3 separate regions of the Homo sapiens genome follow, and all the other regions are linked to region 1. The links come from fine-mapping of genetic effects on gene expression. A gene starts in region 1. Each other region holds a variant in brackets. All regions are shown on one strand. Distances are from middle to middle. Region 1 holds the start of TBC1D7 (TBC1 domain family member 7). Region 2 overlaps PHACTR1 (phosphatase and actin regulator 1). Region 3 overlaps PHACTR1 (phosphatase and actin regulator 1).

The links.
Region 2: its variant is fine-mapped to the expression of TBC1D7 in whole blood (INTERVAL, PIP 0.97).
Region 3: its variant is fine-mapped to the expression of TBC1D7 in neutrophils (BLUEPRINT, PIP 0.95).

Annotation. Positions count from the first base shown.
Region 1 is chr6:13,323,968-13,331,967 of GRCh38, forward strand. TBC1D7 (TBC1 domain family member 7) reads right to left here and starts at 4,570. Exons shown (of 8, transcript NM_016495.6): 1 at 4,329-4,570; 2 at 2,820-2,939; 3 at 1,127-1,207. The coding sequence starts at 2,931. It overlaps TBC1D7-LOC100130357 (TBC1D7-LOC100130357 readthrough), which reads right to left and starts at 4,570. Exons shown (of 9, transcript NM_001318809.2): 1 at 4,489-4,570; 2 at 2,820-2,939; 3 at 1,127-1,207. The coding sequence starts at 2,931. It overlaps LOC124901261 (a long non-coding RNA gene), which reads left to right and starts at 4,648. Exons shown (of 2, transcript XR_007059457.1): 1 at 4,648-4,931; 2 at 5,758-5,890. RefSeq lists a silencer at 4,386-4,775 and an enhancer at 4,409-4,915.
Region 2 is chr6:13,206,028-13,214,302 of GRCh38, forward strand. PHACTR1 (phosphatase and actin regulator 1) reads left to right here. Exons shown (of 15, transcript NM_030948.6): 8 at 1-109. It also overlaps the pseudogene RNU1-11P. Among named protein-coding and RNA genes, the nearest start is that of TBC1D7, 120 kb to the right of the region's middle. The variant A/G (reference allele first, on the strand shown) is at 3,563.
Region 3 is chr6:13,238,501-13,246,775 of GRCh38, forward strand. All of the region lies in intron 10 of PHACTR1 (phosphatase and actin regulator 1), which reads left to right. Among named protein-coding and RNA genes, the nearest start is that of TBC1D7, 86 kb to the right of the region's middle. The variant C/CA (reference allele first, on the strand shown) is at 3,369.

The DNA of each region.
Region 1 (8,000 bases):
GGATTCTAGGATTACTCTGTATAATCTATGTAAACTACTCAGCCTACTGACAGGCATACAGGGATGCCCAATAAGGAGCAATCATAGTTTATATTCTTCAGGGAATTTAGTACTCGCCACTATCTTACAGTGAACAAACTGTAAGTTTTTTTTTGTTTGTTTTTTGTTTTTTTTTTTGGAGACGGAGTCTCGCTCTGTCGCCCAGGCTGGAGTGCAGTGGTGCCATCTCGTCTCACTGCAACCTCTGCCTCCCGGGTTCAAGCGATTCTCCTTCCTCAGCCTTCCAGGTAGCTGGGACTACAGGCGCATGCCACCATGCCCAGCTGATTTTTTGTATTTTTAGTAGAGAGGGGGTTTCACCCTTGTTGGCCAGGATGGTCTCAATCTCCTGACTGCGTGATCTGCCCGCCTTGGCCTCCCAAAGTGCTGGGATTCCAGGTGTGAGCCACCGCGCCCAGCCAAAAATACTTTTTTTAAGAAAGAAAAGGAGGATGGTAATGGATAGGAATTATATGCTCCAGCAGGCTCAGCAATGATAGGGGAAAGAAAATCTTGGGCTCAAAAGGGATGCTGCCAGTTACTCATGGCACTTAATTCACATTTTCTTCCATAGAAACTAAGTAAGATCAGTTTTCCTTCTCACTCAGCCACTCGCACCACTGGAATTTAGTCATTCACACTTCTAGGGAGTAGTAAGTCTCCAATTCCTCTTTGACAGATTAGGAAGTTATACCTCTATAGCTGAGAATCACAAAATCTTACAAATTTAGAGCTAAAAACTAGGAGTAATTTAGCTCAAAAGCTTCAGTTTATAGATGCAAAAAATGAGTCCCAGAGGGGTCGCCTTCCTCCAGGTTACCCAGCTGATAGCAAAGCCTAAACCAATTCTCATTTCTCCTACTCCAATGCTCTTCCCAGATCTTGTCTCAGGAACATAAACTATTTTCTCTTCTATAGTATCATTAATAGAACAGAAAATAATGAGTGGTAATTGAACCTCCTGGGGAAGATCCAATATTCAGTAAAAGGCCTAAACAAATTCTCCTTTTTCTGACTGATAAGATAGCAAATGATCCCTTCATTCAATATTTTTTAAGATAAATCTTCCAACTCCTGGGTCTCATACCTAGAAGCACCTTCCATACCAATGCACGGTACATGGACGGGAGAGGGAACCTCTGACTAAAAGTACAAAGTTTCTCAGTATCTAGAGGAAGAAGAAAACAATTGTTAGAAGCTTTTCATGCTGATCACAGTATGTCAAGGCACATTTCATTTTTTAAAACTCAAAGAATAGTTAAGACATTTCTTCAGGGGAAGTCTACCATATGGTCAGTAAGTTTAGGAGAGGCAATACTAGTCTGATTTCTAGCCCAAGACTTCTGCCAACTAAGTTATTTAAAAACAATTTGCGGCCAGGCACGGTGGCTCATGCCTGTAATCCCAGAACTTTGGGAGGCTGAGGCAGGCAAATCACTAGAGGTCAGGAGTTTGGGACCAGCCTGGCCAACATGGCAAAACACCATCTCTACTAAAAATACAAAAATTGGCTGGGTATGGTGGCACACACCTGTGATCCCAGCTAGTCAAGAGGCTGAGACAGAAGGATCGCCTGAACCCAGGAGGCAGAGGTTGCAGTGAGCCAAGATCGTGCCACTGCACTGCAGCCTGGGCAAGAGTGAGACTCTGTGTTAAAAATAATAATAAAAATAAAAACAATTTGCATTTTACAGCATTGGAGATGCATTTTGCATATATTACTACATTCCCTATAACAGTGGTAGTTATTAATCACAGGGTTTATTTAATTCACACTGCAAGCCTGTTAGGTAGTTCTTGTTCTAAAAATGCAGAAACTGAAGTTCAAAGCAGTTAAATGACTTGATCAAACTAACATAGCTATTAAGTGGTACAGTCTGCCTTCAAATCCCTACATTTTCCAATAAATTACAGTGACTTCCCTGACCCTCAATTCCTCTACTTATCAAAGGAGAATACCAGACATACTAAAGCAAAGACCGCACAATTGAAGATCAAAGATAAGGTGAGAAATGTTTCAGAAACTTTAAAAGTACTCTATGCAAATAAAGTATTATCTTTAACTACGGTTCAGTTTATTTTACTTTAGTCAACAACAGACCTTATTCAGACTGGCTCAAACTAAAATGTCAATATACAATGCACTCTTAGTATTTCCATAAAAGAAAATCATGGGCTGGGCATGGTGACTCCTGCCTGTAATCCCAGCACTTTGGGAGGCCGAGGTGGGTGGATCACTTGAGGTCAGGAATTTGAGACCAGCCTGGCCAACATGGTGAAATCCTGTCTCTACTAAAAATACAAAAAATAGCCAGGCATGGTGGCACATGCCTGTAATTCCAGCTACCTGGGAGGCTGAGGCAGGAGAATCACTTGAACCCAGGAAGTGTAGGTTGCTGTGAGCCAAGATCACACCACTGCACTACAGCCTGGGCAACAGAGTCAGACTTGGTCTCAAAAAAAAAAAAAAAGAAAATCATGACCAGAGTTATCGCAAATTTACCCAGAAGCAAATTTACCTAGATAATACATGAAAACATATGGGTTCAATAAAAGAAAAAAATACTACTGACTTTCTTAAGAAACCTTTCAAAAACTTCTGACGCTCAGTGAAATATAAATTTGAAAAATCTTTTCTCAAAATACACCATTCTGCTTCACCACATCACTAAAAAATACAGCAAGTAACCAATGCTTCTGGATGTCTTTTAAGAAAATATTTACTTCAGAACATGTGGAGTGATTGAGAACCAATGAGATTAATTTTTAAAAGTACTCACCCAGACGGTCATCTTTTAGGAGAATTTCTAATGATTTCTTTTCTTCAACTCCACGAAACCCCACTTTCTCATAATATACTGAACGAAAGTTTCTCTGAGAGTCCTCAGTCATATTTCATTCTTGGAGGAGACACAGAAAGACAGAAAGGGAGAGAAAGACGAAGGGGAAAAGTGAGTCTAGAAACAAAGAGTCAAGAATTAGAATAATTTTCAATGATGTTCTCCACCTTTTCAATATGATGTACCCTTGCATAGGACCCAATATTAAATTTTTCCTTTAACTCAGTTCTGCAACTATCTCACCTATGCATCTTGGCTAAAAACCAAGATATAAGTTAAAAGTTCTCTGAGCTGATAAAATAGATGGCACAAGGTTTATGCACTAGGTTTCCCACTATACCTATGAGTGCCTAGCACAATAGAACATTCTGTAGCTATTATAAATGCGCAAAGAAAAAAAATAAGTGAAATGGAAGCCAGGCAAGATACGTCAAGCAAATTATACTCAAACAGTATACACTATGATTTCATTTTTTGTTTTTTACAAATTTCATGTATTTTAAAACTTAACACTCTATTCCAAAATGTTAGCAATGGTTATCTTTAGATAGTAGGATTCTAGATGATTTTAATTTCCTTTCTTTTGCTTAGCTACTTTTTTTTAAATGGGCATTTTGTAAAATGAAAAATTAAGTTATATAAAAGTAAAAAGCCACGAGTTCCTCACTTATCTTTCTTTTAAACACAATTCTATTAAGTGTAGCTATCGAAATTCAAAACCCACAACAAATAAATCGCATTAAATTATAACTAGAAGAGGGTAAAGAATGTAGCCAATTGACAGTGATCCCAAAGTCAGAGTTGAAGACGGAAAAACGATTTAAAATCTACCGCAAGAACTCAAAAAGTTCAGTGGTCTCAAGTTCCTTCACAGTAACCTTCATAATACTGGCGGTAATTCATCCAAAAAAAGACCAAGTTAGATTTGGCGTTTCAAGAACAGAAAAGATCTGATGCATTTCCCAAAAAGCACTGCACTGCCTCACCCAAATGCTTCCAGCGTCTGTGCACAAAAGAGTAAATCTTTAGGTTTAAAAACCCTGCGACGTCCCCAGTGAGCAGGGGAGGGCTTCCTTCCTTATTGAAAAGATATCCTCTGAACCGATTCAGTCACAGGAAAGATTAGGATTCGTTTAGAAAATGAAATGCTAAAGGGCTCTGAGCTTTCGGGAGCAGATGTCTTAAAAATAAAAAAGTCAGCAGCATAAAACGCGTAATGAGTGTGGGGATTTATTTTTTTAAAGCATCCAAACAGCTGCATGACGATTTGGTCGGTCCCTGTTGTCTAAGGACACCCATTCTTAGATTGCACTACAATGACAAAGGCGTCCTCTAGGAGGAAATGCTGCAAATAATATCTCCTGCCCATGCGCGTCCACCTGATGGGAAAAGTAAAAACACCCTGGTCCAAGACCCCAGGTCCCATTCTCTCTATGATGGATGCTTCACCTCTAGTAGTGCAAACACACCCGGGTTGAGACTAAGTGGTCCGGGAGAAGCAGAGGAAGCCGTGCCCTGTGCGCTGACCGACCGCCGGGCAGGCGGGCACCGTTGGGGCCCAGGGCCAGGAGGGACGAGTCCTGCGGGAAGGAGGGAGGCGGCGGGGTACCTGGGACACCCGCGCGCGCCCAGACGGCCCGGGAGACAAAACTCAGCGCCGCTGCCGCTGCCGCTGCCGCCGCCGCCGGACGTGACATCAACTCCAGGTCGCCGGGCGGGCGCCGGGCGGGCGCATGCGCAGAGGGCGCGGGCAGGAAGCTCCACCCTCACTCCAGGAAGCTCTGGCTTCGTTTGTGAAACCCGACGGGATGAAGGGCTAGGCTCGCCTCCAGAGTAGTGTAGTTTCTCCCGCCGTGGGCACCCGGCCCCTTGCTACCCCGCAAAATCTCGCGACCATTTACTCTGGCCATCCGAAGGCGCGTGCCTGGGTTGCACTCCCGTGTCCGGCCCTCGAGGTTCTTGCCTAGGGAAGACCCGAGCCCTAGGGCCGTACTTAAGCTGCCTGCGTGCAGGACCCGGGTTTTGCTTTTGCTAATTTCCTCCCCACCCCAGGTATGTGGGAATAGATGAAGACCATCCGAATGAGAAGAAAAAAGGCAGGCAGAGGAGTGCAAGTCTGATTTAGAGCAGGCAGGCTCCCTGGGTTGGTTATTGTAGGTAACTGACTGGTTTTCTGGGCAGGTTGCTGCAGGTTGTGGATTGGAGGTCTATTTTTATATTAGATTTGGCCATTGTCTTAGTATATTCAGCCTCTCAGGTAAAACACTATAACATAGGAGAAAAATGAACGTGTTTTTTTTTTAAAAAAAGATGTGCTAAATGCAAGCTCCTAATTTGTTATTAGTAGGTCTAACAGAACAGAGTTACTCTTTAAAGTAGCTACTAACACTTACAAATGCTTTCTATTTCTGTGCTTGCCTCCCTGGTCCTCGGGCTGGCTGAGCAGCAGTGCCCAAGTAGGTTTTTAAACCGCCAGGGTTTGAGAGAAATCCCCAATGATGGGTATCGTCCCTTTGAAAGTTCAAATCTCTACCAAATAAGCCACACGGATGCCAAGCTTTGAAGGAAACTTAGGACTATCAACAGTGCAGAAGTCCAGTTATAGTGCAGACAAATGTGTGTATAATGGCTAGACAGAACTTAAAAATGAAGAAACGTGTGGTGGTTGAACTCAAACACTGATGCCCCTCCCCACTCCCTTACCACCACCATCTTTAGTTCCTCAGTACTGGGGTACTAAACCTTCCTTGGGTAGTGTTCACATGAGTAAGCAGAGTTCTTCAAGTTACCTTACACAAGTTCCATTTACTTCATCTAAACCTTGGGCCGGTCACTAACTTTTATAATTGCCTTTTCTTGTCTTTAAAATCATCACCAGGGCTGGGCACTTACTGTGTGCAGGCGCTGTTCTATGGACTCAGGATACATCAGCTACCGAAGCAAAGATCCCTAACCTTGTGAAACTGACATTCTGGTGGGAGGACAGATCCAATAAAAACTAAAATAAATAAGTCAATGATGTAGTGTGTTAAAAAGTGATCGGTGCTGGCTGGGCGCCGTGGCTCATGCCTATGATCCCAACACTTTGGGAAGCCGAGGCAGGCGGATCACCTGAGGTCAGGAGTTCGAGACCAGCCTGGCCAACATGGTGAAACCCTGTCTCTAGTAAAAATACAAAATTAGCTGGGTGTGATGGCACACACCTGTAATCCCAGCTACTCTGGAGGCTGAGGCAGGAGAATCGCTTGAACCCGGAAGGCAGAGGTTGCAGTGAGCTGAGATGGTGCCGCCGCACTCCAGCCTGGGCAACGAGAGAAATTCCATTTCAAAAAATATTAATAATAAAATAAAATCATCACCAATGGTGATTATATAGAAGGTGGGAAGGGTTAAATGAGAAAGTATGTAAAGTGCTTGGCATGGTGCCTGGCATGTGGCACAGTAGGGATATATGTGAATTGGCTGTGTCAAGATCAATTAAAAATGCAAAGATGAGTCTCTAAATCATTTTATTTGGGAAAACAGAATTGCAGTTCAGGGCATACACACAGACTGGGGTGGTCTTCAGAACAACAAAGAGATGGTTGGAGGTTTCATTAGAGAAATGTTATGTATTACCTTGAAAGATAGCTCATTGACCCTAAGCAAAGTTTTTAGGAACAGGCAAGCTCTAATTTGTGAGAGAAGGTGGTAAGTAAAACTAGTCTTAGAGTTACAGCAATTCGTTTCAGCAGCTACTGGGTGAAACTGGTCTTCAGGTTATAGCAGGTCACCTTGGCAGCTGGCTTTCAATATAATTCCTGGGCAGGCACTTTGTGCCCCAACTGCTTTCTCTTCTCCCTCATCTCTGGACTCTAATTTAGCTGGGTATGAAGATTACTCCAATTCATACAATCAATTTTCAAGACTGCTGTTCACTGAATGGTGACAGCAATATGGGTGCCTTCAACTGCCCTCCATTCTGTTTTTTGATGAGCTGATAACAGAATATGTGGAAGCTTCCCTAAGAGATAACACTTTGAGACTTTTGTCAACTCTGCAGCCAGAATGAATCTAAAAATATCCCTCTGCAAAAAATCCTTCAGTGGCTCCCCATTTCTCTCAAAGGAAAAACTGAAGTGCTCACAACAGCTTACAACACTTCTCATGGTCTACCTCCTTGTACCTCAGTCTCAGCTACTATGAGTGACTCCCCTGCCTTGGGACCTTCTCATGTTCCCTCTGCCTGAAACACATTATCCTCTGCTAGCCACATGGCCCACTCACTTACCTCAGTCTCAATCAAATGTCCCCTCCCTGAGGCTACTTTCCCCACCCTACCTAAAATTGCAACACTTTACCTGAATCCCAATCCCCTGTATGCAGTTCTACCTTTTCCTTCTTTCACAGCAATGATCCCATTTTTTTTTTTTTTTTTTTTTTGAGACAGTTTTGCTCTTGTTGCCCAGGCTGGAGTGCAATGGTGCGACCTTGGCTCACTGTAACCTTCACCTCCCGGGTTCAAGCGATTCTCCTGCCTCAGCCTCTGTAGTAGCTGGGATTACAGGCCCCCGCCACTGCGCCCAGCTAATTTTTTGTATTTTTAATAGAGATGGGGTTTCACCATGTCGGCCAGGCTGGTCTCAAACTCCTGACCTCAAGTGATCCACCCGCCTCGGCCTCCCAAAGTGCTGGGATTACAGGCCTGAGCCACAGCGCCCGGCCAGCACCGATCACTTTTTAACACACTACATTACTGACTTATTTATTTTAGTTTTTATTGGATCTGTCCTCCCACCAGAACGTCAGTTTCACAAGGTTAGGGATCTTTGCTTCGGTAGCTGATGTATCCTGAGTCCATAGAACAGCGCCTGGCACACAGTAAGTGCTTAATATAGACTTCTAAACAAATGAAAAGGGCTATCACACAATGTGAACAGGTGGCCATTCGTTCTTACAGTTGCATATTTGAGTTGTGAACTGTCAGCATTATTAGTCACTGGACTCTTAGCATAACACAGATTATAGAATGGAGTTGTCAGGCAATAAAATTTTGTGGAATTTAATTGAAATAAGACTTGTAAAACTCACAGGTGTACTTCACTGTAACAGGCATCACTCCTTTCTTGTAATATTTCTGCC
Region 2 (8,275 bases), 120 kb before region 1:
GCCAGCACCTCCCCTCCACCACCGGCTCCCTCCCCATGCACCCCTCGGGCTGCAGAATGATAGACGAGCTCAACAAAACGCTGGCCATGACCATGCAGAGGCTGGAAAGGTAAAGGTGGGCACCAGGAGGGAGGACGGGAGGAGAGGGGTTGGCTGGGGAGGGGGGCCTAGGGATTTGGACCATGACTTAGGAATGTGAACAAGGGGTCATCCCCACTGGGGGAAAATGTTTGAAAGTAAAATGAGACAAAAAACTGAAGGTCAAAGCATGGAAAAAAAAAATGTTGCCAATTGAAAAGCTCTGGAATAATCACATTTATCGGAAAGAAAAACTAACATTCATGTATATATGTATATGCTTATATATACACACAGTCCTCAGTGTCATTAGTAGGTTCGTGAAAATTGCAACTTCAGTAAAATAAAATCTAACAAAACCAACTTAACCATAGACTAATTGATATAAACAAGACTTAAGTTCCTATAGCATATTTCTGGTCACAAAAATATCACCAAACTTCTAAATAAAGACCACAACACTTCTAATATTAAACATTGAAATAAATGTGAGCTGTACATACATTTAAGAAAGGTTAATAAAAACAAAGAAGATGATTACCCAATTATTCCAGTTCCGGGTGGTGGCTAGCCAGAGCATGTCCTAGCAGCCCAAGGCACAAGGCAAGATCTGGCCCTGGTCAGACATCATCCCCTCACAGGGCACACTTACACCCACACCCACACCCACACTCACTCAGACCTAGGACAGTGTAGACATGCCATTTCACCTGACATATACATCTTAGGGATGTGAGAGGAAACCTGAGTACACGGAGAAAACCCATGCAGTCGTGGGGAGAACGTGCAGACTCCACACAGACGATGGCCCCAGCTGGGAATCAGTTTGTTTTTTTTTTCTCATCAATGTTATGGCAAAATGACATTGAATGAAATGACCTTATTCAAGGACCTGCTGTATATCCATCTTTGCATACGTGTGAGTGTACGCACATACACATGTACACACACACACATGCATGCACACATGCACACGCACATGCACGCACATATTGTGTCTCTATAAGCATTAATGTTTTGTGGAAAAATGTATACGTAGTCATTAATAGCATTTATTCCTGGTGTGGTGAAATGGGGAGAAAATACTTTTATATTTCATATCTTTCTATAGTACTTTTTAATTCTGTGTATATTACTTTTATGATACTCAAAAGAATTAAAATATGAAATAAGAAAAGATGAGGACTGGCAGGTGTTGGAGGGAAACAAGAGGGCTGGGGAAGGTGGGAAGGTATACCCTGTTCTTGCTGATGGAGGAAGCAGAGTCCCAGGCTCTGATTATGTGCACTTGTGAGGCTAATATTTGGCCACTACCAAGGCAGCTCCCTCTTTCACCAGAATATGCCTCCAGTCGCTCTTCGGGGAGAGCTGCAAAGATGACCCCACAGGCAGGCCTGCAGCCACGACCCTAACTCCTCACCACATAGGGAGATCTCTCAAACTGGTTCTCAATTACTCTTGATTGTGTATACACACATGAGTGTATGTGTGTGTGTGTGTGTGTATTCAAACACCGCCACCTACCTCACATCCAAGAAGGCACTGGGATTTCCCACTGGGGCTCTGAGGCACATTGCTTGACTGAGTGCCCTGGTGTAACAAGGAGAAAGTATGATTATGAGGTGCAAAGGGTATCTCTGACTGTGAGCTGAATGCTTGTCCCATAGTAGTGGCTGCTGGTCATTGGGTCCTACAGATGGAAAATGGCAGTATGGAGGTCCCAGCGAATCACCAGAGAGCTAAAAGCGAGATGCACAGGCGGGAGCTTCGGGTTGTGTTTTCCTGACTCTCGGTGGCTTTCTCTGCTCCTGCCTGTCAGCTGAGTATTCTGCATTTGGGAAAGGAGTGATTCACTGGGAGGTTGCTGTGTCTAGGAATTCTGACTTGATTGTTTGGTGTTAACACCTGCCCTTGCTGCAAAAGGAAAAAAACAAAACTTAATTTGGCCCCTTGCTGTCATTGGCAACTATTCTTGTTATTAATTAGAACAATAATAATTTAAAATGTGGCTGGCACGTTTTAATCTATTACACATACACATTGTCATCACTGTCATTGTCATCTTATTTAATCCTCACATCATCTACGGAAACGGAGTAGATGGAGAAACTAAGGGAGGTTCACTAAGTTCCCCAAAGCCACCTTCTCAAAGGGTGGCCCACAAATGGCTTATCTCACATCTGCAACCACGTAAGTGCAGACATTGAGAACAAGTTTTAGATACTCTTACAGCAATATGACAGAATAATTTCATGTCTGTTGAATCTTGTCATTAAAAAGGGCTTCATTATTTTTACATTTGTATTATATTTTACAAAAGCATCAGTTTGTGATGGATCGAAAATGGAAAGAACTAAACAGTAAGAACTGTTTCTTCCCTGTAGATGTTTGGAAAACACTACCCTAGGTAGTAAGTTGAGAGGCTAAGCCTCCAGCCTGGGTCTTCCCTCTCCAAGTCCAGAGATCTTTGTACTAACACACAGCTGCTTCCTAAGGACATGTAGCAGCCAACGTCATTGCTGCCCACCCCCCCAACCCCATGTCTACATGCACCCACTAAGTTTTCATATCTCTCATGAGCGTCAATCATCAGAAAAGATACTTGGATAGCATGTTAATAGTATATTGCTAAATATGCTTCCACTTAAAAAAAACACCATATTAAAAGGTTCAATTAAAGATGCTAACTGACAAGTTTTATAATATCTGTGGGTATTTGCGGGATATTTCAGTTTAATTTAGACCAATGGGTAGATCTAGTCGGATAAGGGAATTTTGGTGGGGGCAGGGTATGCAGCATGATCTCGGCAGCAGAGCCAAGGCAGTCTCTGCGCTTTGTCCCAACTCAGAGTCATTTCCTCCTTCTTTCTCCCTCACTTCCCACTCGAGGTCAAAGCATAGGGTTGTCCTAACAGACCAACCAGGCTGCAGAGATTAATGCATGCATCAGTTTGACAAGATTGCCACCCCAGAGAAAGAGAGGCCCTCTTCCCAAACAAAGACCATCCCAGAGGCCCTCTTCCCAAACAAAGATTGGAGAGATTTTTCTGTGTGTCTCCAGTCATCTCCAGGAAGAATCTCAAAATAGGCCAAGGTCACAGGCCACACTTTTCAGTGTAGGGAGGGAATCACCAGCTGTCTTGGGTGATTTCCCCCTGATTTTTACTGCCTAAAAATTCTCCCTGTTGCCTGTCAACATGATTTCATTCTTGTTCTAACCAAGTTTTATACAGAAAGAAAGAATCATTTCTCTATCCTCCTGGCAATTTCCAGTGACCCCAAAAAACTCTGCAAGAAGGGAGAGGCATTACCAAACACTCAGGCATCCTGCCTTTAAAGTTCCTTGGACCGACCCCCTGTTTGGGCCATTGCTGCCCCCTGAAATCTCAAAGAATGTCACACCATAGGCCATCGGTCCAGATGGACAGTCTGATCCTGATGAAAAAGTTATAGGTAATATACAAAGTTGAATGGTGAATTAAAC[A/G]GCATCAATGCCTGACACTGGACCATACATTTGCACAAGTCATCTTATCAATGAAAGGGGCCTTGAAGACCATCCAGGCCACCAAGCCCCTGCTCACAGCAGTGTTCCTGACCATTTATCCTCTGGTCTCTGCTCCAACAGGACGTTCCCCAGGTCCCAACATAGCCTGCTTCATTGTCAAGAAGGTCTGACTGTTAGAAAGTTCCCTCTCTATTAAAAGTTTTACTTACTGAAATTTGTATCTGCCCCTTCCCGATCTTATTTCTAATCTTCCTTTCCTGTAAAAGGCTTTTAAATCTTTGAAGATAGCTACCATTCCCTTCATTTAAGGACTTCTCTAGATCTTATACCATCTTGTTCGTGTTCCCCTGAGATTATACCAAATCTGCTCTGATTTATATGGAGAAGTTACTTTTTATTTATATTTTTTATTTTTGAGACAGCATCTCACTCTGGCACCCAGGCTGTAGTGCAGTGGCATGATCATGTCTCTCTGCGGTCTCGACCTTCCAGGCTCAAGCAATTCTCCCACCTCAGCCTCCTGAGTAGCTGGGATCACGGGTGCACGCCACCATGCCCAGTTAATTTTTTTTTATTATAGTTTTTGTAGAGATGGGGTTTTGCCATGTTGCCCAAACTGGCATCGAACTCATAGTCTAAAGTGATCATCCTGCCTCAGCCTCCCAAATTTCTGGCATTACAGGTGTAAGCCATGGCACACACCTGCAGAGAAGTTCTTAGACACTACCTTGCCTAAGCCTGCTTGATGGCACTAAACAATGGCGTGGTTATTTACAGCTTTGGCTCACAAGATTTGGGGGAAGGAGCTAGAATCCACTTGAAGCAAATTTAAAGGGTCATATTTATTCAAAATCACAGGGTTGCCCTAGGCAGTGGGGTCCGAGCTGGTGGCATCACACACCCCTACTTCAGGACAAAGTGTGTGGGTTCCAGAATTAACTGCCGGAGTTTGAGTCTTAGACACACCACGTATTAGCTGTGTGACCCAAAGCGTATGGCTCAACCTCTTTTTGATTTTCATGCCTTATCTGTAAAATAAAAATAATCATAATGCCAGCAGCCTCATTAGGGTCATTTGTAAGGATCAGATTATTTAATGAATCCAAATCAGTGGGGTTATTGCATGTCACACAGTAAGCAAATGGTATTGAACATTAGCCAGCATGGAAAATTTGTCTTCAGTGACCCTAGAATGGTTTGGGTAAGTCTGTTTGTTTGGGTAAGTTTCCTCAAATTAGATTATCTTCATTCCCCTCACCCTGGTGAGCCACATCTTTTGGAAGATGATGGTTTATCATTTCTTTTTTTTTTTTTTTTTTTTTTGCATTGAGATTTCCCCTCAACTTTCCATTCTAATAAATAACACTGCATTTTTTCCCCATTTTTGTACTTAAATCTTTGCTAGCCTTTACTCTTGTTCTTAAGAAACAAGCTTTTCTTAAAGTCATTAAAGAGTTGAATTCATGATTATTTAGTGACCCTGTTGTGGAACAACTTTTTATTTGTTTATTTTTATTTTTATTTCAATCGTTTTTGGGAAACAGGTGGTTTTTGGTTACATGGATAAGTTCTTTAGTGGTGATTTCTGAGGTTTGGGTGCACCCATCACCCGAGCAGTGTACACTGTACCCAGTGTGTAGTCTTTTATCCCTCACCAGCCTCCCACCCCTCCCCCTGAGTCCCCAAAGTCCATTATATCATTTTTATGCCTTTGTTATCATTTCAAAGATGATGCAGTGTTTTTATTTTTAATATCTGCAGTAAGCTCCGTGATCTAGTTGGCATCAATCCTAGAAGTCAGATGTAAAGTCCTAATCAGGACGCCGTTTCTTTCTGATCTTAATTCGGCTGATCTCTGTGTTCCAGTCTCCTATTAGTAAAATGAAGGTGGAATGTGGATCCATGTGGACCCTGAAGGAATTTTAGGAAGATTCTTAATGGAATGCACTTTAAAGAAGTCTTTCCCTTCTCAATTAAAGGCAACTTCACACTTTCAGTCGCTCATGCCAAAGACCTGGAGTCACCCTTGACCCCTTCCTTTCTCTGGTTCCCCACATCTGACTGTCCGCAAATCCTGTCTGGTCCACACTGTACATACACAGGGATAAGACCAACACTTCTACATGCTCCTTCTTCTCCTGCCTGAGCCTCAGTCGGCCTTGCCTGGCTTACTGCAGTTTCTCCCACCTGTTCTTCTGTGTCCACACCTGCTCTGCAGCCCATCCCCACTACAACAGCAAAAGAGACAGGGTTTGAGGAAAGTCAGATCGTGACTGTCTTTGTCTGCAAGGACTGCCATTTAAAAACACACACACACACACAATGCGTGACTTAGATGACAGAAATTTATTGTCTTTCAGTTCTGGACGCTAGAAGTCCGAGATCAAGGTGCCAACAGGGTTGGTTTCTCCTGGGGACTCTCTTCTTGGCTTGTAGGTGGTGTCTTCTCTCTGTGTCCTCACGTGGTCTTCCCTCTGTGTGTGGTTGTTCCTCATCTCTGCTTATAAGGACACCAGTGATAGTGGATTAGGGCCCACACCACTGACATCATTGTAACTCCCTCACCTCTTTAAAGACCCTACTTCCAAATACAGTCACATTCTGAGGCACTGGGACTTAGGACTTCAACATATGAATTTATCTGGGGACACTGCTCAGCTCTTAACAATGTCTGTGCCCAAAATGCTTCTGTCGCTGTCCAACTCACTAAGAGTAAAAAGCAAAATCCTCCCCATGGCCCAGAAGCCCACACCCACTCCAAGTTCTTTTGCAAAGAAAAATCTACTTACTCTTCAAGACATTATTAAAATACCAGGTCCTCTGTGACCCCTTCTCAGATTCTGGTACAGATCTCTGCCCTCCTGCACACACCCCTTTTGCATACTTGCATCAGGTTATGTGTTTCTCTCTATATTCTGTCTTTAATGTGGACAGGAACCATCCTTGTCTCCTCATCTGCTATGGTTTGAGCGTCTCTTCTCCAAAATTCAGGGTTGAAACCTGAGTATTAACGGACTGCCCCTGTGGTCTCCCTCGCTTCATCAGCTCCCCTCTCTGTTGCTCCCTCCTCCCTCACACAGCGGCCTTCCCACCATTCTCGCACATTCTCGGACATTCTCGGACGTGCCGGACACCTCCTGACGGGGCCTTGGCACTGGCTGTTCCCCTGGACGGACTGCCCTTCCCTCAAATATCCTCAGGGCTCCTACACTCACCTGCCTCGGGTCTCTACTCAAATGTCACATCCTCAATGAGGCCCTTCCCGTTCAATATTGCAACCCTCCTCGCAACACAGCCTGTTCCCCAGCTCCTTTTATTCCTATCAAAGCATTTTTCACCATCTAACGTTTTGTGTCATTTGCCTTTCATTCGGTTTGTTGCTCTTCTCACCTAATAGAACATACAGTCCACAAGGGCAGGAACTGTTTTGTTCATGGCTGTATCCAGAGTGCCTACAACAGGGCCTGGCTTATAGGTTTGAGTGAGTGAGTGAGTGAGTGAGTGAGTGAAAGAATAACTGAATGAATGGAGAGCCTCTCATAGCTGCAGTGATATTCTTTCACTTATTAATCTGCTTCCTATTGATGGATTGAGTTCTCACAAGGCATATGTTATATAAATATTAAGCAGTATTAGTGGTCTTTAACCTTTTATATTTTCTTTATTCTAACAATTTGAACTGTTCCCTCTGTTTGGAATGCACTCTCTTACATCCTGTCCTCTACCACCCAGAGCAGCTTCTTTCACAAAGAAAAATTCTTGTTCTTCAAGACATTAAAATACCAGGTCCTCTGTGATCCCTTCTCAGATTCCCATACAGAGCTCTGCCCTCCTGCACACACCCCTTTTGCATACTTGCAACAGGTTATGTGTTTCTCTGTATATTCTCTCTTTAATGTGGATGGGAACCATCCTTGTCTCCCCATTTGCTATGGTTTGAGTGTCTCTCCTCCAAAATTCAGGAGTTGAAACTTAATGGCCAATGTCTTAGTATTAACAAGTGGGGCTTTGAAAAGGTGATTAGGCCATGAGGGCTCCTCCCTCATGAACGACATTAAGACCCTTGTGAACTGGACTTCACACAGCAGCATAAAGCCCTCTTGGCCTTCCACCATGTGAGCGTGCCGCGTTTCTCCCAGCCAGAGGCTGCAGCCCTCACCAGACAGCCAAACCTGCCAGCGCCTTGATCTTGGACTTTCCAGCCCCGACAACTGTGAGGAAATACATTTCTGTTCTTCTTAAATTACCCAGTCTTGGGTATTTTATTATAGCAGCACAAATGGGCCACAATCTGCCATAGTACCTGTCATGTAGGAAGTATTCTGAAACTATTTATGGAGTGGGTTTCATTAAAAGTTACTCTAATCTTTGAAATAGAAAAATATCTTACTTTTATGATCAATGTTTTGTTACAAACTGTCTCAATTATAGAAACAGGCTTTTGCATACTTACCTGGCAGTGGAGATACCATGATCACGAAGGTGGTTTTCCCAGGGCGAGGCTTATCCATCGCACTCCGGATATGCTGACCCCTGCGATTTTCCCAAATGTGGGAAACTCGACTGCATAATTTGTGGTAGTGGGGGACTGTGCTTGCGCTTTCCCCTGAAAAAAAAAAAAGCAAGAAAAGAAACAGGCTTTTGCTGAGGATCCACTCCTGCTTCCCCTGTTGGGCCATTCCTGTTGTGTTG
Region 3 (8,275 bases), 85 kb before region 1:
TTGTTGCTATAAGCAGAATATGAAATAATATGTACCAAGGATTATGCGCTGCTTTAAATCATGGTACGGTGTTCAAGAGAGAAAATTGAAATCCATTTTTTATGCTTGTAGCACAGGCAATAAAATACAGTAATCTTGACTTCTAAATGTAGTTTGGGTAGTGTTTATGGTTGGGGAAAATTGGTGCGGTGAGTCTGACACACCGACACCTAGCTCCAAAGTGCCAAATAGTGTCTCCCCAGGAATCTAAGGACTAATGCTGAGTGTGAGCTGGCATCTCCCCTGGCTAGGTAATTTCTTCTGCTGCAGAAACACTTTCTAAAAATAGGAATAACAATAAAAGGCTCTATGATGTCAATTCAACTTGGACTTACTTAGTGTCCCTGGATACGTGTCACTGTGAATTACCACTCCAAAGAAAAAAGGAAGGAAAATAGACTGGAGTGAAGTTTTAGAGGCCATGCTTGTAGGCCTAGCCCTTGAGGTTGTGCGCCATTATCATCACCATCATCATCCTCCTCCTCATCCTCATCTTCATCTCAGCTGTGGAGGAGCAGGGAGTGGGGCACAGCTTAGGGGGCACAGGAGAGAAACGGAAAGACCGCCCTGGTATTCGCTCATCTTCAGATCCACAAAGCCTGGGTGGGGGTGGCTCAGGCCAGGGAGACTTCCCATAAAACTGGGAGGATTCTGAGACCTCCCATAAAACTGAAGGAAGACGCCAGTCACCAAACTGAAATTGTGTGTTGGGAGCAAGTCAGGTCAGGGTGAGCATAACTTGAATGTATTTATTGAGTTCTACAACATTTGTACCACAAATGCGTGGACTTCGTGTAGCTAAGCTGCTTTCAGGTAATTTGACATCTTTTATGAACTCACTGCACGCAATAGAAAATCCTTTTTGAGAGCTCTTTGGGAATGCTGACATCTTCTGAAAGGTGCTCAGATGAGCTCAGGCTATAGCACTACCTGTTTGATAGAAAGTTAAAGAAACCACATGTTCGCTGGGGCTTATTTAAAAAAAAAATCAATGGAAGGTGAGAAAGCTGTCTGGATAAGAAGACTTGAGCAAGACGCATTGGAAGGAGGTAGAATAAAACTTCAAAACCACACATGTAGAGGTTCTGGCATTGAGCCATGGGTCACAGCCATCACAGGGACCTACAGCCATTGAACATGTCTCAGAGCCCTTGCAGGGATCTGCATGGCCTCTTGCCCTCTTACCCAGCCTCTAGCTGTTAAGAGCTACAGCAAAGACTGAACTCTTGACATCCTGTTGCTAGGACAGAGTTTCTGAGCCTCGACTCTGTGTGTATGTCCATGCCTGTGTGTCAGGAGGAGAGGAGGCCCCGTCTGCAAGCCCAGTACCGCATGTTGAGGAGCAGAGCCACATCTTGGAGAGCACCGTTAGTTCTCTGCATCTGTGACTTGCGGCTGCCCCGGCAGTCTGTACATTTTTCAGTGATACAGTAAGTGTGGTGGACAAAGAGCTGCCTTTTACCCAGTGGGAACACAATCGATCTTAGTGTTTAAACTTGCAAAGTTTCTTTAAAAAAAAAAAAAAGTGGCCATTCTTGGAGGTTGTGAGTCTTACTTTGTTTTATATTTCATAGCTTTTTTAAACAACTGATTATTCCAGCAGCATTTCAAATTTTGGGTGCAGGGGGTGGGGAGAGCACAGCTATACTCAACTGCAGACTAAGCAGGGAATGGATGAATCTTCTGGGCTGCATGGTCACATTTTAAGAGGCTCTTCTTAGGGTAGATGAAGAGGAAGCTTCAAAGACTGGGCTGTTTATTACTCACAGCAACTTTTTGTTCTCAGGTGATTTTCCCCTAATCTGTAATGATTGTTCTTGTTTGTTAATCTAAGCAGAAGGCAGAAGAAAGGCTGTGTTTCTTAGGATATTCGTTGTGGGTTTTTTTTTGTTGTTGTTTTTTTGTTTTGTTTTGTTTTGTTTTGAGATGGAGTCTGACTTTGTTGCCCAGGCTGGAGTGCAGTGGCGCAATCTTGGCTCACTGCAACCTCCACCCGCCCCAGGTTCAAGTGATTGTCGTGCCTCAGCCTCCCAAGTAGCTGGGACTACAGGAGTGTGCCACCACACCTGGCTAATTTTTGTATTTTTAGTAGAAATGGGGTTTTGACCTGTTGGTTGGGCTGGTCTCAAACTCCTGGACTCAAGTGATCCGCCCACCTCAGCCTCCTAAAGAGCTGGGATTACGGGCATGAACCACTGTACCCAGCCAGGATATTTGGCTAAGTGAAAGAAGAATCAATCCATCTACATTTAAAGACCTCTCAGGGCGAAGGTCCCTGATACGTGCCATTTATAACTTTAAAGCCTGTTGCTGTAGATAAAGTGTTTCCCCATCAGCACCTCATCTAATAATCTCCATGCAACCCTGCAAGGTGGCCGCTACTGGGAATCCCATTCTGTAGATGAGGAAACTGAACCAATGATCTCAGAGATGATAAAGGGCAAAGAGAAGCACATCTTCTAAATCCAGGGTTTTCCTATTTCTGGCAAACCCACTGGAAAAAATGTGTAGTTTGGTTGAGTTTTTATGTTGAACAGAGCTTCCCTCCCAAGGACCTGTGGTTTGGTAGGTATCTTGGTGGACTGTAGAGTTCCACAGTGGCAGTGGGTCAAGCTATGTGCAAATGTACTCAAGGGAGAGATAAGGCATGGAATGAAGAAGAGGAAAGGAGATGTTCTTCTATCTCGGGCTTAACTGGGCTTTTTTATTGCATTTCAGTAATACCTGTGCCTGTTGCAATGTGGGGAACAGAGGTCCAATGCAGTGGTTCTCCTGGTGTGGCCCTTGGGCTAATGGCATCAGCATCCCCTGGGAATTTGTTGAAAATGCATATTCTCAGGCCCCACCCCAGACCCAGAATCAGAAATTCTTGGGCCGGGTGGGAGGTGGCGTGCAGGAATCTGCATTTTAACCAGCATGATTCTGATGCACACTAAAGTTTGAGAAGCAATGGGCTAGTAAGAAGAGAAATCAAAGACTTTGGAGCTGGACCTGAGCTTGAAAGCTCTTCACCACTTACTAGCTGGGCCCCTGTCAAGCCTTAGTTTCCACATCTGTAAAACGGACCTCCCACACAAGGTCATCCAGAGCACCAAATGAGTAAGACTTTCAACTGTAGTAGATAATGAATGCTAGTTCCTTCCCTCTCCTGGTGAGTCTGAATACTGTATCATGCTCGACTCTTATTAGAAAAAGTAATGCTGGGTGGGCGCAGTGGCTCACACCTGTAATCCCAGCATTTTGGGAGGCCGGGGCAGGTGGATCACTTGATATCAGGAGTTCAAGACCAGCCTGGCCAACAAGGTAAAACCCCATCTCTACTAAAAATG[C/CA]AAAAAAAAAAAAACCTAGCCAGGTGTGGTGGCACAGGCCTGTAGTCCCAGCTACTTGGGAAGCTGAGGCAGGAGAATCGCTTGAACCCAGGAGATGGAGGTTGCAATGAGCTGAGTTTGCACCACTGCACTCCTCCGGTCTGGGCAACAGAGTGAGATTCTGTCTCAAAAAAAAAAAAAAAAAAAAGGAATAAGTAATGCTAGTTGCCCTAACAGGAAAATCCTAAATCCCAGTCACCTAAAGCAGCAAAGGTTTATTTCTCACTGGAGTTAAGCCTAATGTGGATCTGGTAGCCTTGATCCGTCAGATAGCCATTACATGCTTCTAGAACACATGACTCCAATCTCAATAGCAAGGGAAGAGCAGGCAGAGGAGGCACACACATCACTTCTGCTCACAGTCCATTCATCAGAACCCAATCTCACTTCAAGGGAGTGTGGAAAACATAGAGAAGCACACGCAGTGTTGGATGAGCGTAAAGGACCTTTTCCACAATTCCACTGAGCCTACAGTTGCCACACAGGTCTTTAGGTCATGATTCTTGCACTTGTGTAAAGGGACTGTCACAGCTATAAGAGACTTGATTAAAAGACTTTCCACAATTAGCAGTTGGAATTCAGGGGCACCAGGTACATCTGAATGGAGCATATCACCTGGATTGCCAGAGGGGTCTGTCTTGGGGCGAGTACATGGAGGTCACTAATGCCCATGGTCTATATCAATGAATTTGCACCTAAGGCTAAGTTTAGTAAAGCAACTTATGGAAATCAAAATGATCTCAATTTGAGAAAACAGACTCAAAAAAATCAACATTGCTTTTGCTTTAAAGGAAAAACTAGCTTAACTACAACTGAGAAATCACAAAAAGGAACAGTGGACTTTGAGCTCGAGTGAGTTTGTTTTATATGAGTTTAAGGTTAAATTTCCAGGGAAACAAGTTACTAAGGGAGAACATGGGAACCTCAGCTTCAGCCAGTTGATTCAGTTGGAAACTATTGATTAAGCACCAACTGTGTGCACAGCTCTGTAATGGGTGTTATTTAAAAGGTAGCTAGATAATTATGCTTCTCAGAAGGTTTAGATGAGTGAGTCAAAGTATGCTTACTGTTTTCTGCTTTCAACTGGAAAAGACACAGCAAGTTCCATGAAGAAGGCGCAGATCTCTCTGTAGCAAATTCTTTTATGGGTGTGAATGTATTTTAGATTATTTCTCTTGCCATTTTTTTTTCCTTTAAAATATCCCCCAAAAGAATGGGAATGAGTCAGGGCTCTGATCATGTAAACACTGAATAATCTGAACATCTGATTCTGAGGTTTTTTTCCTCTTAAACTTGTGCATTAATGTGAACAACTTCAACTTGAGTTGTCAGACCACTTTTTTTTTTTTTTTTGCGAGATGTTCTTTTTTTCTTTTCTACAACCTTATAACCACTTATGAGCTTAAAACAGCCACAAAGATGTGTCATTTCTCTCATAATTTTACCATGAAAGGATTTCTCAGTCACTTGTGAACTTACCAGGAGGCAATGAATAAACTCTGATTTAAATCATTTTATGAAGCATCCAAATAATGGCCTAAACCTTGGTTAAAAGGTGATTTTACTGCAGGGAATATTCAAATATCTCATCTAGGCCTTTCAGACTGGCTCAGAGATTTTTGTCACTGTGTGGACCTTGGGCCTATGACTTGTTGGAAACTCTTTAATGAGTTTCTTTTAAAAGAAAAAAAAAACCTTAGGTTCAAGGGTACACGTACAGGTTTATTATAGAGATAAATTCCATATAGTGGGGGTTTGGTTTACAAATTATTTTGTCACCCAGGTAATAAGCATAGTACCTGATAGGTAGTTTGGTAGTTTTTTGATCCTCAACCTGCTCCTACCCTCCACCCTCATGCAGGCCCCAGTGCCTGTTGCTTCCTTTTTTGTGTCTTTGTGTACTCAGTGTTTAGATCCTACTTGTAAGTGAGAACATGTGGTATTTGGTTTTCTGTTCCTGTGTTAGTTTGCTAAGGATGATGGCCTCCAGCTCCATCAGTGTTACTGCAAAGAACATGATCTCATTCTTTTTTATGGCTGCATAGTATTCCATGGTGTATATGTACCACATTTTCTTTATCCAGTCTGCCATTGATGGGTATTTTTTCAGGGGACCTGCCCCGATAATCACGTAGGTTCTTTTCTAGTTTCCCTAAGCATCGGCTGGCTTGAGAAATAAAGGGACAGAGTACAAAAGAGAGAAATTTTAAAGCTGGGCGTCCGGGGGAGACATCACACGTTGGTAGGATCCATGATGCCCCACAAGCCACAAAAACCAGCAAGTTTTTATTAGGGGTTTTCAAAAGGGGAGGGAGTGCGCGAATAGGTGTCGGTGACAGACATCAAGTACTTAACAGGGTAATAGAATATCACAAGGCAAGTGGAGGCAGGGCGAGATCACAGGACCACAGCTGCCAGGCGAAATTAAAATTGCTAATGAAGTTTCGGGCACCATTGTCATTGATAAAACATCTTATCAGGAGACAGGGTTTTGAGATCAACCAGTGTGACCAAAATTTATTAGGTGAGAATTTCCTCTTCCTAATAAGCCTGGGAGCGCTATGGGAGACAAGTTTATTTCACCCCTGCAGTCTCAACCATAAGAGACAGGTACGCCCCGGGGGGCCAGTTCAAGTTCAGAGACCTAACCCTAGCTGCACATTCTCTTTCTCAGGGATATCCCCTGCTGAGAAAAAGAATTCAGCGATATTTCTCCCATTTGCTTTTGAAGGAAGAGAAATATGGCTCTGTTCTGCCCGGCTCACCGGCAGTCAGAGTTTAAGTTTCTCTCTCTTATTCCCTGAACAATTGCTGTTATCCTGTTCTTTTTTCAAGGTGCCCACATTTCATATTGCTCAAACACACATGCTGTACAATTTGTGCAGTTAATGCAATTATCACATAGTCCTGAGGCGACATACATCCTCCTCAGCTGACAGGATTAAGAGATTAAAGTAAAGACAGGCATAGGAAATCACAAGGGTATTGATTGGGGAAGTGATAAGTGTCCATGAAATCTTTACAATTTATGTTTAGAGATTGAGTAAAGACAGGCATAAGAAATTACAAAAGTATTAATTTGGGGAACTAATAAATGTCCGTAAAATCTTCACTATCCATGTTCTTCTGCCATGGTTTCAGCCGGTCCCTCTGTTTGGGGTCCCTGACTTCCCGCAACAGTATTTAGGTTGATTCCATGTCTTCACTGTGGGCAGTGAATAGTGCTGTGATGAACACACATGTGCATGTGTCTTTATGGTAGAATGATTTCTGTTCCTTTGGGTATATACCCAGTAACGGGATTGCAAGGTCGACGGGTAATTCTGTTTTAAGTTCTTTGAGAAATAGCAACTGCTTTCCACAATGGCTGTTTACAATCCCACCAGTAGCATGTAAGCATTCTCTTTTCCCCACAACCTTGCCAGCATCTATTATTTTTTGACTTTTTAATAATAGACATTCTGACTGGTGTGAGATGATATGTGGTTTTGATTTGCATTTCTCTAATAATTAATGATGTTGAGCATTTTTTCATGTTTGTTGGCCACATGGATTTCTGTTTTTGTAAAGTGTCTGTTCATGTCCTTTTTAATGGGGTTGTTTGTTTTTTGCTTGTAAATTTAAGTTTCTTATAGATGCTGGATATTAGACCTTTGTTGGACGTATAGTTTGCAAATATTTTCTCCCATTCTGTAGCTTGTCTGTTTACTCTGTTGACAGTTTCTTTTGCTGTACAGAAGCTCTTTGGTTTAATTAGGTGCCATTTGTCAATTTTTTTTTTCGTTGCAATTGCTTTTGGCATCTTCATGAAATCTTTGCCAGGTCTTGTGTTCAGAATGGTATTTCCTAGGTTATCTTCCAGGGTTTTTATAGTTTTAGGTTTTAAGTCTTTTAATCTATCTCGAGTTGATTTTTGTATATGGTGTAAGGAGCAGGTCCAGTTTCAATCCCCTGCATATAGCTAGCCAGTTATCCCAGTTCTTTGGTGAGTTTCTTCACCCACTTCACAACTGTATCATTAGGATCTCAGAGTGTAATAGAACATTTTAGAACTTAAATGGACATTTACTATCACTGCATCTAGCCTTAATTTTACAGGTAAATGGCTGATAGAGGCTACACTACTAGCCAAGTTCACACAGTAATTTCTGACAAACTAGGATTTAAAATAAAGTCCTCTGACCCAGTCGGTGCTTAAAATTAATATCTCTCAAAAAAGAGAGAGAAATAGATCATGTTTTACTGGAATAAACAGGCCAGTTGTTAGTTAGCAACCATAACAACTCATATATCTTCGTTGATTTTCTCAAAAGAAAAATAAATAATGTGGAGGTTTTGAATGAAATCTTTAAAAAACATATTCAGTTATCAAAAGGCCCATGTAAAAGGAATCCTTGAATTCTCCCACAGATACATTCTTTCACGGCCACCATGATCTTCCTTGATCCCACTTAGCCAAAAGAACACTGAAATTAAATGTGCGAGCGAAAGATGTTTCCCTACCTGGATGGCTGATGGTTCATTACAGCTGAGCAAAGTCTCATTAATCATTTTGAAAACTAGGCAGGTACTCTGGAAAATTCTTTTGCTGGTACCTTAATTTAGAGTTGGCCTATTCTTGTGATTCTTTCAAATGATAAGTGAAACTCTAATCATGTATACTTATTAAGAATTATCTGTTCTTTGTTTCAGTGGTGAAGTTGGCATTTCCAGTCTATAATTTCCATTGCATATAGTGCTCTTTCTCCCTCACCCACCAAATTTGGCTTCAGGCTTGATGGGATGTGATTTTTCTGTAGCCCCTATACAGAGCTTGCACATGGACCTGAATATTTAAAGAGCAGAACGAGATTACAACTGAGAAATTT